Linked DNA regions of Homo sapiens. The protein of the gene in region 4 interacts with the protein of the main gene of each other region in a biochemical or structural test. Each region holds a gene or a part of one and is shown on either strand. Other genes may lie near its edges.

Evidence for each region. The genes of interacting proteins can lie anywhere in the genome.
Region 1: the proteins of PEX5 (region 4) and PEX6 form a complex in vitro, tested with the Homo sapiens proteins (one study listed by BioGRID).
Region 2: the proteins of PEX5 (region 4) and NUDT19 interact in a test that uses a peptide from one of them, tested with the Homo sapiens proteins (one large-scale study listed by BioGRID).
Region 3: the proteins of PEX5 (region 4) and PIPOX interact in a test that uses a peptide from one of them, tested with the Homo sapiens proteins (one large-scale study listed by BioGRID).

Annotation. Positions count from the first base shown.
Region 1 is NC_000006.12:42,972,682-42,976,181, reverse strand, and holds part of PEX6 (peroxisome biogenesis factor 6), read left to right. Parts: intron 1-1,143; coding exon 1,144-1,307; intron 1,308-2,095; coding exon 2,096-2,179; intron 2,180-3,500. UniProt on the Homo sapiens protein: Component of the PEX1-PEX6 AAA ATPase complex, a protein dislocase complex that mediates the ATP-dependent extraction of the PEX5 receptor from peroxisomal membranes, an essential step for PEX5 recycling.
Region 2 is NC_000019.10:32,708,821-32,711,556, reverse strand, and holds part of NUDT19 (acyl-coenzyme A diphosphatase NUDT19 precursor), read right to left. Parts: intron 2,373-2,736; coding exon 2,165-2,372; intron 1-2,164. UniProt on the Homo sapiens protein: Fatty acyl-coenzyme A (CoA) diphosphatase that hydrolyzes fatty acyl-CoA to yield acyl-4'-phosphopantetheine and adenosine 3',5'-bisphosphate.
Region 3 is NC_000017.11:29,042,011-29,045,940, reverse strand, and holds the start of PIPOX (peroxisomal sarcosine oxidase), read right to left. Parts: upstream 2,801-3,930; 5' UTR 2,716-2,800; coding exon 2,602-2,715; intron 1,083-2,601; coding exon 934-1,082; intron 1-933. UniProt on the Homo sapiens protein: Metabolizes sarcosine and L-pipecolic acid.
Region 4 is NC_000012.12:7,196,186-7,199,685, reverse strand, and holds part of PEX5 (peroxisomal biogenesis factor 5), read right to left. Parts: intron 676-3,500; coding exon 573-675; intron 1-572.

The sequences.
Region 1 (3,500 bases), on a different chromosome or scaffold from region 4:
AAAAATACAAAAATTAAATCCCAGCACTTTGGGAGGCCAAGGCAGGCAGATCACAAGGTCAGGAGATTGAGACCATCCTGGCTAACACGGTGAAACCCCGTCTCTACTAAAAATACAAAAAAAAAAAAAATTAGGTGTGGTGGCACATGCCTGTCGTCCCAGCTACTCTGGAGGCTGAGGCAGGAGAATCCCTTGAACCCAGGAGGCGGAGCTTGCAGTGAGCCGAGATGGTGCCACTGCACTCCAGCCTGGGTGACAAGCGAGACTCCATCTCAAGAAAAAAATAAAACCCACAAAAATTAGCCAGGCATGGTGGTGCACATGCCTATAGTCCCAGCTACTCAGGAGGCTGAGGCACAAAGAGAATCATTTGAACCCAGGAGGAAGAGGTTGCAATGAGCCGAGACTGTGCCACTGCACTTCATCATGGGCGACAAAGTGAGACTAAGTCTCAAAAAAAAAAAAAAAACTAAATCATGTTTTTTAGTTGCTTTAGCTACATTTCTTTGTTTTTGTTTTGTTTTTAGCCACATTTCAAGTGCTCAATAGCACATGCAGATATAGACTATTCCATTGTAGAGAGTTCTACTGGGCAGTACTAGAGTAACCAGTTAATACTTTGGGATGTCAGGTAGAGATACATGTGAAATACATGTGAAAGGGAGTGGATGTAGGTTTCCTCCTGAATGGAGGAAAAACTACTGGGGTACTCAAGAGTAGAGCTCATTGAACCAACCAATGACTGAACCAACCCGTTCAGCTTTTCCCACAGCCTGAATTCAGTTTCCCCACTAATGACCACTTAATGTTAATCCCTGTGGATGCCTGGTGTCACTAATAGGTCTTGTGGGAATAAATGTCTTTACCATTTCACTGGCTCTGGGCCAAGTTGAAAGTGTCACAGAAAGGTTATCTTTACTGAGAAAATTTTTTGGAGCCAGAGTCGGGATAGGAGGTGATATTCTCTTCCTGGTACCCATTAGAGGGAGAGGTTTTCAGGTCTGCTACCTCAGGCCCCACCTTCCACAAGCCTTGTGGTTATGGGAAAGACAGGATGGAAATAGACATGTTGGCTGCTGAGAGACAGGTTAGAGCCTGCCCCCTTAGGAGAAGGTTATAACGTGGTGGTTATTTCTCTAATAGAGGTACTTGGAAGGCTCCATCGCCCCTGAAGACAAAGGAAGCTGCTCATTGCTGCCTGGGCCTCCATTTGCCAGAGAGTTACACATCGAAATTGTGTCTTCTCCCCACTACAGCACTAATGGAAATTATGACGGTGTTCTTTACCGGCACTTTCAGATACCCAGGTTAGCTACCTAACCTTTTAAGGAGGATAGCTTCTCACCCTCATTACATTCCTCCTATCCCATGCCTTAGAACCAAGTACCCCAGAGGCCCTGGTTAAAAGAAGCCACATTTGCGGCTAGGTGCTGTGGCTCACGTCTGTAATCCCAGCACTTTGGGAGGCCGAGGTGGGCGGATCATGAGGTCAGGAGATTGAGAGCATCCTGGCTAACATGGTGAAACCCCGTCTCTACTAAAAATACAAAAAAAAAATTAGCCGAGTGTGGTGGTGGGCGCCTGTAGTCCCAGCTACTTGGGAGGCTGAGGCAGGAGAATGGCGTGAACCCGGGAGGTGGAGCTTGCAGTGAGCCGAGATCGCACCACTGCACTCTAGCCTGGGCGACAGAGCGAGACTCCGTCTCAAAAAAAAAAAAAAAAAAAAAAAACAAAAAAAACATTTCAGACAGATTGTGGTAGGCGCCTCTTGGTATATCAGGGAGACCACAGAAGAGAAATCTGAACCATGAGGTTAATTTGGACATTCCAAACAGAGACACCTGTGATTAAAGAGGGCTCCAAAAGAGCCAGGATCCTGCTCTGCCACTCATCTGTCTCTGATCCCCCTTTCTAGTCTCTCCACCATTTCCCCTAGCTCATCCTAAGACTGACTTGTTCCTTGGAGAACTGCGTGGGATCTCTGGGCGGGCAGTAGACTCAAGAAGTAGTCTGCATGTCGGGGGTGGACATGTGGTAATGAACACATGCTCATTACTCCCATTGTGACCTGACCAGGGCCACTGCTGTGTTGCAGGGTAGTCCAGGAAGGGGATGTTCTATGTGTGCCAACAATTGGGCAAGTAGAGATCCTGGAAGGAAGTCCAGAGAAACTGCCCAGGTATGCAGCTGCCTTCTGTCCTACAGCTGGGATTTGTAACCTGGGTGCATGAGTTCTACAATCCCCTCCCTGCAAATCATGTGTAATTTGTGCCCAAGAGGATTTCGTTGTCATGTATTTTGTGTGTGCGTGTGTGTGTGTAACAGGTTCTTGCTCTGTTACCCAGGCTGGAGTTTAGTGGTGCAAACACAGCTCACTGCAGCCTCTACCTCCATGGCTCAAGTGATCCTCCCACCTCAGCACTGCCTCTGCCCCAGTAGCTGGGACTACAGGTTCGCATCACCACGCCCAGCTATTGGTTTTTGTATTTTTAGTAGAGATAGGGTTTCGCCATGTTGACCAGGCTGGGCTCGAACTCTTGAGCTCAAGTGATCTGCCTGCCTTGGCCTCCCAAAGTGCTGAGATTACAGGTGTGCACCACTCACCCCCAGCCTGTGTACATTTTTTTGGAGAGAAAATTCACCTGTCCTTCAGTTCCCAAACAAGTGTATGACTGAAGAAAGGTTAAGAACCAGTCAGGCATGGTAGTGCATACTTATAATCCCAGCTACTCAGGAGGCTGGGCAATATAGCTAGACACTGTCTCAAAAAACAAGCAAACTAAAAGAACCACTCCCTGCTGGCTTTGGGAGGTGTTTATCCTCAAACTGACTGGTGGCCCTATGTAAAGCAAAGCACTAAGAAGAGTTTAGGCCAGGTGTGGTGGCTCACGACTGTAATCCCAGCACTTTGGGAGGCTGAGGCAGGCAGATCACTTGAGGTCAGGAATTCAAGACCAGCCTGGCCAATATGGTGAAACCCTGTCTCTACTAAAAATACAAAAATTAGCCGGGTGTGATGGTGGGCATCTGTAATCCCAGCTACTCAGGAGGCTGAGGCGGGAGAATCACTTGGACCTGGGAGGCAGAGGTTGCAGTGAGCCCAGATCGCATCACTGCTCTCCAGCCTGGGTGACACAGCAAGACTCCATCTCAAAAAATAAATAAATAGGTAAAATTTAAATTCTTTTCTTTTTAAAGAAGAGTTTAATGGCCTAGACCAAGACGGGATTCCTTCCTTTCCGTTCTTAGCCTTCGTGTTATTTGGACCAAGACTTGGGCCATACCATCCATATCTCAACGTAAGGATATACAGGCTCTGATTTCTGCCTTAACTACGGAGTGTGCACAAACTACTTCTCAATCCTATCTCTGAAAACAGGAGAGGGATTTCTCTTTTTTTTTTTTTTTTTTTGAGACAGAGTCTTGCTTTGTTGCCCAGGCTGGAGTGCAGTGGCGCAATCTTGGCTCACTGCAAGCTCCGCCTCCCGGGTTCATGCCAT
Region 2 (2,736 bases), on a different chromosome or scaffold from region 4:
CTATTTAATATGTTTGGAACTGAGATAGTTGTTAACTAATCTAATTCTATGAGCTTACCTCAATTTCTTTATTGTGTTTTTTTATCTGTTTTTTGAGATGGAGTCTCACTCTGTTGCCCAGGCTAGAGTGCAGTGGCGCGATCTCGGCTCATTGCAACCTCCACCTCTTGGGCTCAAGCAATTCTCATGCCTCAGCCTCCCGAGTAACTGGGATCACAGGTGTCTGCCACCACGCCTGGTTAATTTTTGTATTGTTAGTAGAGACAGGTTTCGCCATGTTTACCAGGCTGGTCTCAAACTCCTGACCTCAAATGATTCACCCACCTCGGCCTCCCAAAGTGCTGGGATTACAGGCGTGAACTACTGCGCCTGTCCTCTTTCTTGTGTTTTTAATATCCCCTTACAACACCCCAGCCAAGAGTTTTCTTTGGGCCCATAAACATCTGTGACTGGTATGTTTCCACTGTGAACTGTAACTATTATACCAGTTCATGACTCTCTTTATTCTATTCAATACTGATATTAAGATTGGCCTTGATATTCATATACTTTTGATGTTTCAAAGTGGGCTGTTCTTATCATCTTCAGGTTAATTTAGAGAAATTCCATCAAAACTGCTAAATTTTCCCACTGTAGGTTGAGTAATAAATCTTTTTTTTTTTTGAGATGGAGTTTCGCTCTTGTTGCCCAGGCTGGAGTGCAATGGCGCAATCTCAGCTCACCACAACCTCTGCCTCCTGGGTTCAAGTGATTCTCCTGCCTCAGCCTCCCAAGTAGCTGGGATTATAGGCATGCGCCCCCATGCCCAGCTAATTTTGTATTATTAGTAGAGACGGGATTTCTCCATGTTGGTCAGGCCGGTCTCGAACTCTCGCCCTTAGGTGATCCACCCGCCTCAGCCTCCCAAAGTGCTGAGATTACACGTGTGAGCCACCGCGCCCAGCCTTTTGTTTTGTTTTGTTTTTGACAGAGAGTGTCGCTCTGTCGCCCAGGTTAGAGTGCAGTGGCATGATCTTGGCTCACTGCAACCTCTACCTCCTGGGTTCAAGTGATTCTCCTGCCTCAGCCTCCTGAGCAGCTGGGATTACAGGTGTGTGCCACCATGCCTGGCTAATTTGTTTTTTTTTTTTTTTTTTGTATTTTCAGTTGAGATAGAGTTAACATTTTACTTTATTTTCTTCATAATTTCATAATTCATAATTTCAATTGAAATTATGTCCAACTGAAAAAAAAAAACAAAGTTGGCTGGGCACAGTGGCTCATGCCTATAATCCCAGAATTTGGGGAGGCTGAGGCGGGCGGATCACCTGAGGTCAGGAGTTCAAGACCAGCCTGGCCAACATGGTGAAACCCTGTCTCTACTAATAATACAAAAAAATTAGCCAGGCGTGGTGGCACATGCCTGTAATTCCAGCTACTCGGGAGGCTGAGGCAGAAGTATCGCTTGAACCCAGGAGGCAAAGGTTGCAGTGAGCCCAGATTGCACTCCAGCCTGGGTGACAAGAGCAAAACTCTGTCTCAAAAAAAAAGCTCCCTAATTCAAATTAGATGACAACTTACGAGTTCTCGTAATTCAAACTTAAAATGCAAAAAAGTGAGAAATCAGCCAGGCATGGTGGCTCATGACTGTAATCCCAGCACTTTGGGAGGCCAAGGCGGGTGGATCACAAGGTCAAGAGTTCAAGACCAGCCTGGCCAAGATGGTGAAACCCCGTATCTACTAAAAAAAAAATACAAAGATTAGCCGGGCACAGTGGTGGGCACCTGTAATCCCAGCTTCTTGGGAGGCTGAGGCAGAGAATTGCTTGAACCTGGGAGGTGGAGGTTGCAGTGAGCCAAGATTGTGCCACTGCACTCCAGCCTGGGTGACAGAGGGAAACTGTCTCAGAAAAAAAAAAAAAAAGTGAGAAATTATATGAGAAAGACCTTTGTCAATGTCTAGGAAATATATTAATATAAATGTATGTGTATGTATATGACATTATGCAGAATTTCTGGTTATAATAATATGGATATTTTATAGGCTTTGATCTTACTTAGCTAATACCCTGTAGATTACAAAACACAGACTGTAATTCCTGTCTCTACGTTGGGCAATACAGCCATGCAGCCCAGGGCACTGAATGTGAATACTAACAAAAGCACCGATGCTTCACTGGTTTACCTGGTAAAAGATGGACCATCCCATCAGCAGTTAACAAGATGATCGGCAGCCACCTTTCCAGTCCTTCTAATGCACGACCCAAACAAAATTTGTGCAAGTCAGAGAGAGAGGCAAAGTTTGCAAGTCTTCTCACTTCGTAGAACTGTGGGGGTGGCAACCAAATTTCTTTTGATAAGAAACTTTCAGTTGCCTCTGATGGAGATGACCACTGTGAAAGACAAAGGCAGGGTTTCTTAAGGTTTATGCCATAGACAATGTGAGACTTGAGACAGTCAGACCAGTACCTAAGGTAGAACTGAATGTGTAAAATGAATTCATTAATGCGCCCTGTGAGATCCCTCAAAGACAACATGAAAAGATTCAGTGAAGAAAGCTGGGTTGATCCTCTTAAGAGGTTGCTTATTAGGACACTGATCCTCAGAACTAGTAAATAAACCAGGGCAGACCCCTGAGGCTTGACCTGGGAGAGCTGTTCAGCATAAGAGGTGGGAGATGCAGAGAGGGTAAGGTGGTTCCGGTCCCTGCTGAAAGAAGAAAGACTCTGAAGGGTAAACTCATCACAGTAGATGGAG
Region 3 (3,930 bases), on a different chromosome or scaffold from region 4:
CTTTCTTTCCCATGAGTGTTTGAAAGGTCAAGGGTTGGAGAGAGCCATGAAGGCAGCAGAGAAAGACGTGGAGGCTCACTCCCTGGCAAGCAATCCAGCCTGGGGAACGTCCCCATTTTGTTCCTACAGGAAAAGGTACTCAGAGAGAACAAAATGGGTTTATAGGGCTGCTAAAGGGGGTGAGGACCCCTCAGGAAAAGTTAGGATGTTGATTTGACTATAAAGAATCCTGGGCCAGGCACGGTGGCTCACACCTGTAATCCCAGTACTTAGGGGGGCCGAGAAGGGCAGATCATGAGGTCGAGAGATCAAGACCATCCTGGCCAACATGGTGAAACCCTGTCTCTACTAAAAATACAAAAATTAGCTGGGTGTGGTGGTGCGCACCTGTAGTCCCAGCTGCCCGGGAGGCTGAAGCAGAAGAATCACTTGAACCCGGGAGGTGGAGGTTGCAGTGAGCCAAGATGGCGCCACTACACTCCAGCCTGACAAAAAAGCGAGACTCTGTCAAAAAAAAAAAAAAAAAAAAAAAAAAAAGAATCCTCCTGAAAGCAGCCTCCTCCTCTATCTCAACCCCTGCCCTAAAAGAGTTGCAGAGGCCTCCACAGAGTTGAAAATACACACTCCAGCAGACTCCTGTCCACTCTGGGCATCTGCCACACGGTGCCTTGCCAGCAGGCTTTCCAGTACTGCTTCTGCTAGCCTTGGACACATGGTCTGAACCCAGTCCTGCAACGCAGAGCCTGGCCAGAGTCAGCTGGACCTGTGGGGTGACCACCATGACAGCAGAACTCTTCCATGCATCTGGTACTTCTTGAGGCCTTGTGTCCCTCCCATTGCATTCCAAATGTTCCATGGCGCTGCCACTTCACACACTAAAAGTACCTGCAGGTGCAGAGCCCCACGATTCAAGGAATTCCTCCCACAGCCCACCTGTGCAATTGGGTTCCAGCCTCGTGCTCCAGCTGGGCCCATATCTGATAGCACTCATGCATCATCCGGGTGTAAAAGTCTTCCAGGTACGCCTTTCGGATTATCCGGCTTTGTCCATGGGAGCTTCCTCGGGAGTGTGGTAGAAAGAACTGGAAGTGGAAAACAAGAGAGATGATGGAAGCCATTACCCCTCACACTGCATCCCCTGTTAAGAGCCATATCAGCATGTGCTGTCAACCAGGAGCCATTTATCCTTCAAATATTTCCACACAATCTGGGGAAGGATTATGCACAGGAAGATAATTTGAGCCCAGGAATTCAAGACCAGCTTAGGCAATATAGCAAGACCCAGTCTTCTCAAAAATTTAAAAACTATCAGGTGTGGTGGCACTTGTAGTCCCAGCTACTTGGAAGGCTGAGGTAGGAGGACTGTTTGAGCCCAGGAGTTTGAGGCTGTAGTGAACTATGATAGTACCACTGCACTCCAGCCCGTGCAATAGAGTGAGATCCTGTCCCCCCACAAAAAAAAATTCACACAATCTTTCCAAATTCTCTCTTTATGACCAATTTACTGACTTGGCAATCAAGATAGAAGTTCTTCAATAGCACTAACTTAGGCTTCCTTTTTGCTAACGTTGTTCACATCCAGAAGTTCTTTTGTTAGCTAGTCTTCAACCATCCTGCTGCAATCTCACCTCACTTAGATTCACAAAGAAGCAAAATTAGAAAAAACCTTCCAGTTCAACTACTCCAGCCCCTTCATTTTATGAACAAGGAAACTGATGCTGACTTTATTTCTCTGTGGCTACAGATCACTCAGGGTAAGAGAACCACCTCAGGATTCAGCAACAATGAGTTTCCTGAGAGGATGAACCAGGAATCCCTTGGGCTTTGAGAAAACTGATAGAGAAATGAAGAAGGTTTCTAACTACTCTGGCTCATTACCAAGAAGAGCAAACCATAGCCAGCCTGGGTAGCTGCAGGCAGAATGGAAAGGGAGAGTCCACTGCAGTGGATAGCTGGGTGGCCCTGTCCTCGAAGGACCCTGCAGACACACAGGGCCCACCCACATATGCAGTGGTCACTGCAGACTGCACTGCGTAGCAGGAAAAATAAGGCCTCAGTCTCACTTATCATGTGTCAAACAAGGAGGCTGCTATTATCTGGAGGTGGCAAAAAATAAAAAATAAAAAAAAAAAACAGAAGCTTCTGCTGGGTTCTGGTGTGAGAGGCCAGGAATATGCAAGACAGAATCCTACCTCTTAGGCTGATAAATCAACCTTTGCCTCTAGGCAAAATTATCTTTACTTTAGGTTACCTAGAGCAGAACCAATTATTTTTCTGGGGTGGGGATCAACCATTTGGGCACAGAAGGGAAAGAGTAGTGAGAAGGAAGAGAACAGGGCCTAGGACGCTTGGTCAAGGGCAGGAACTGGGAAGCAGTAGAAAGAGGAAATGTGCCTAGAAACCCAATGTGGGTATGAGGGATGTGAAACTTCTTTGAATTGCCATGAAACACACTAGGCAGCTAAGATACAAATTACACAGAATTTTTGATGATTCAGTCCCTTTGGCCTTGCCCTGTAGCCTGCTGGCTCTGAAAACCCTTCTGCAGGGGAGGAGGGTAGGACAGTCCTTACAGCTGGGGGTGCAGAAGGGACACAGTACCTGCTCCAGCAGGAGGATCCTCTTCCTGTGTTTGGCCAGGTGGTATGCAGTGAAGCAGCCCTGGATCCCCGCCCCAATCACAATGGCGTCCCAGAGATCTTTCTGAGCCGCCATGATGCCACTCAGCCCCACAGCCACAGAGCCTCAAAGGCAAAGGCAAGCAAAGACAGGCTCCCGGCTAAAGGACGAGGAGGAAGGCAAAGTCCAGCCTGGCCAGTGTTCCCACAATGCCCTGGGGTCGTGTCCTCCCGCTTCCCTCTCTGCCAAGCCTGGCCCAGGGCTCAGTCTCCCTTCCCCTGCGGAGCAGAGCTGGGTAGTCTGATTTGTGAGGTTTAGCCCAGCTCAGCCGCCAGCCTCACCCTTGCATCCCTGTGGCTTTCTATTCTTGGCTCAATTATTGTCATGCAAATGGGCTCCTTCCTTTGCCACCTTCCTGTCTCATTATGATCTTTGTCTCAGGACTTCGGCCCTGGAATTTCAATGCCTCCTAGACCATACTGGGCACCGGGAATGCTGCCTCCCCCTGCTGGTTTTCCCCTCTTCAGCCTGATTTGCTTTAGAGATTCTAGAGGGCCCCGCTAAGAACTTGGCACGATGCCCAGAATAAGACCCACCTCCCTGGTGGGTGGTGAGGTCAGGGGGTAGAGGCAGGGGCCAATTGGGAGGGCAGTTTTGTAATTATGAAATTATTCCCAGCATGTTTTACTTTCATTTTGAAGAAAGAAGAAATGATCCTGAAAAGACAGAAAGGGCAGAGTGAGAGGAGGAGCCCTCTCCTCAGCCACAGAGAGGGGACCAGGCCAGCCCAGTGCCTGGAGGGGCCCCGTGTTGAGCATCTCTCTGTCCCAGGCAGTATGCTTAGTAAGTACTGATACTGGCATTTGGGTAGGGCTTGATTGTCATACAGTTCGAGGGTACTCTTTGAGAAAAAGAAAAAAGGAGAATTATTAATACAAAATTAGATGCCCGGATGTGGAAGAAACTGTTCAATTAAGGACCCCCATGGTTGAAGTTTCATTTGCTTCATGGTAAATTTGCCTCTGCATGAGTTATCTCATTTACTCCTCATAGCCCTAGGAGTTTCTGCGGGTTTTTGTTTTTGAAGTTTTGGTTTTTGAGAGGATCTCTGGGATCTCACTGTCACGCAGGCTGGAGTGCAGTGGCACGAACTCGGCTCACTGTAGCCTCCACTTCCTGGGCTCAAGGGGTCCTCCTACCTCAGCCGCCCGAGTAGCTGAAACTACAAACGCATGCCACCATGCTCAGCTAATTTTGTTTATTTTTTGTAGAGACGAGGGCTCACTGTGTTGCTCAGGCTGGTCTCGAACT
Region 4 (3,500 bases):
ATGGCGGTTTTGTGGAATAGAAAAGGGGGAAAGGTGGGGAAAAGATTGAGAAATCCGATGGTTGCTGTGTCTGTGTAGAAAGAAGTAGACATGGGAGACTTTTCATTTTGTTCTGTACTAAGAAAAATTCTTCTGCCTTGGGATCCTGTTGATCTATGACCTTACCCCCAACCCTGTGCTCTCTGAAACATGTGCTGTGTTCACTCAGGGTTAAATGGATTAAGGGCGGTGCAAGATGTGCTTTGTTAAACAGATGCTTGAAGGCAGCATGCTCTTTAAGAGTCATCACCACTCCCTAATCTCAAGTACCCAGGGACACAAACACTGCGGAAGGCCGCAGGGTCCTCTGCCTAGGAAAACCAGAGACCTTTGTTCACTTGCTTATGTGCTGACCTTCCCTCCACTATTGTCCTATGACCCTGCCAAATCCCCCTCTGCAAGAAACACCCAAGAATGATAAAAAAAAAAAAAAAAAAGAATAAAGTAAGTTGGTTCGAGAACGTGGATGGAGGAGGCTGGGAAAACTGTCCATACTCCTTTCACGGGATTCGGAAAGAGGTATCTGAACTCACCAGCGATCGGTGGCTGTTCCCTCAGGTTCTCCCAGCCACAGCTTCTCCTCTGATTGCTCCAAATATTCCTCAGCCCAGCGGGCAGGGGACACAGACAAGGGGTCTGCAAGGAGCAGAGAAGTGGGGAAATCACACAGGTTCATTCAGTGTGGGATCAAGGAAAGGGAAAGAGATGCCCATATTCAACTGACCCTCTTAGCCACACCAAAGCAGACAAAACTCTGCTGACTCCCTCAGAAACCCCTGGTCAAAAGAATATAGTACTAAATTTTCAACATCCTCAATATCCAACCCATTCTCAAGGAGCCTGGGGCAGAAATTTACTGAGAGTTGGGAACGGGAGATCAAATAAGGAATCTCAGGAAAGGATTAAGAACCAAACTCTTTTTCTTGAAGTGCAAGATATTTCAATAAGAAATAGGAAGCGGAAGGGCTTTCACTTTCCTCAGAAGTACAGCAGGGAGCCAGTAAGGAGTGAAGGGAGCACAGAAGGGCTCCTGTTCCTTAACCAAGGCACTGGTCTGTTCTCCCTCTACCCAGAGTTCACACAATCCCGGCCAAAGGAGCCTTATTTCATTGTAATTTGCCTACCAAGAGAATCAGAGAAGTGGAATGCTAGGCTAGAATTAAAGACACATAGGTCTGCTCTTCCCTATGGATGTTTGGTGGGTTTTTTCATTTTTTAATTGAAATGTAATATACAAATATGAAACCATATAATGTCTACCAAACTTAAGTGTACAGCTAAATTAACTTCCACATTTGATACACTCACATAACCACCACCCGGATCAAGATACAGAACGTTTACAGTTCCCTCACAGGCTCCCTCAGTCTCCCAGCCCCCAGAAGTAAACACTATTCTGACTTTTCTCACTTTTGATTATCTTTGAGTAGCTATGTTTTTTCAGTCTAATTTTAGAAACTGTCTCAGAAGCTCTAGTGACAAAGGGGACTGCTGCAACATCAGAATTAACCTATCAAGGCAACAAACTCAATGAGGGTGCTGAACTGTTTTTCATCCTCCAGGACTTTGCCCTTTACTATCCTGTGGCCAGAAAAAAAAAACAAGGAGACTGACTGCGGGCACTAAAGAACACAAGGAAACAAAGAGAAGGCACAAGCCTACGGTGTTCTTTCCTTCTGCCCTGTGTCCAGAACTAATCTTACTAGTTAGTCTGCCACCACCTTCCCCTGCTATTCCCCACTCCTGGCCCATGACAAGGACAGTTCCCAAGGGGGAACTCCACTCTCTTGTTGAGAACCTACTAACTCCAATTTGCATTAAAGAGGGACATTTGGGCAGGGGTGTGAAAATATTAGCTGATACTAGCAGTCTTTGTCCCCAGTTTCAAGATCTGACCACCCTTGCTTTTACTACCCCTTCGGTATTAAAGTACAAAAACTTCTACTCCATTTTAACTGAAACTTTGCCTGAATAATGTCAACAAAGTAGTCTCAAAATCTGAGCATGAAATGTCAAAATGTGAAAAACAAAGATCAAGACTCTCAGAATACACCTAATTATAAATAATAAGTAATTACTACTTATTATATTATATATAACATATATAATTACATTATATATAACATATAATTATTACATTATATATAACATATATAATTATTATATTATATATAACATATATAATTATTACATTATATATAACATAATTACATTGTATATGACATATAATTACATTGTATATGACATATATATAATTATTACATTGTATATGACATATATAATTATTACATTGTATATGACATATATAATTATTACATTGTATATGACATATGATTACATTATATATGACATATATAATTATTACATTATATATGACATATATAATTATTACATATGACATATAATTATTACATATGACATATATAATTACATTATATATGACATATATAATTACATTATATATGACATATATAATTACATTATATATGACATATATAATTATTACATTATATATGACATATATTATTACATTATATGACATATATAATTACATTATATGTGACATATATAATTACATTATATGTGACATATATAATTACATTATATGTGACATATATAATTACATTATATGTGACATATATAATTATTACATTATATGTGACATATATAATTATTACATTATATGTGACATATAATTATTACATTATATGTGACATATAATTATTACATTATATGTGACATATATAATTATTACATTATATGTGACATATATAATTATTACATTATATGTGACATATATAATTATTACATTATATGTGACATATATAATTATTACATTATGTGACATATATAATTATTACATTATATGTGACATATATAATTATTACATTATATGTGACATATATAATTATTACATTATATGTGACATATATAATTATTACATTATATGTGACATATATAATTATTACATTATATGTGACATATATAATTATTACATTATATGTGACATATATAATTATTACATTATATGTGACATATATAATTATTACATTATGTGACATATATAATTATTACATTATATGTGACATATATAATTATTACATTATATGTGACATATATAATTATTACATTATATGTGACATATATAATTATTACATTATATATGATGTAATTATTACATTATATATGACACATAATTATTACATTATATATGGCACATATAATTATTACATTATATATGACACATATATGTATGACACATAATTATTACATTATATATGTCATATATAATTAAATTATATATGACATATATAAATTATGACATATATAATTAAATTATATATGACATATAATTAAATTATATATGACATATATAAATTATGACATATATAATTAAATATGACATATAATTAAATTATATATGACATATATAATTATTACATAACATATATTACATTATA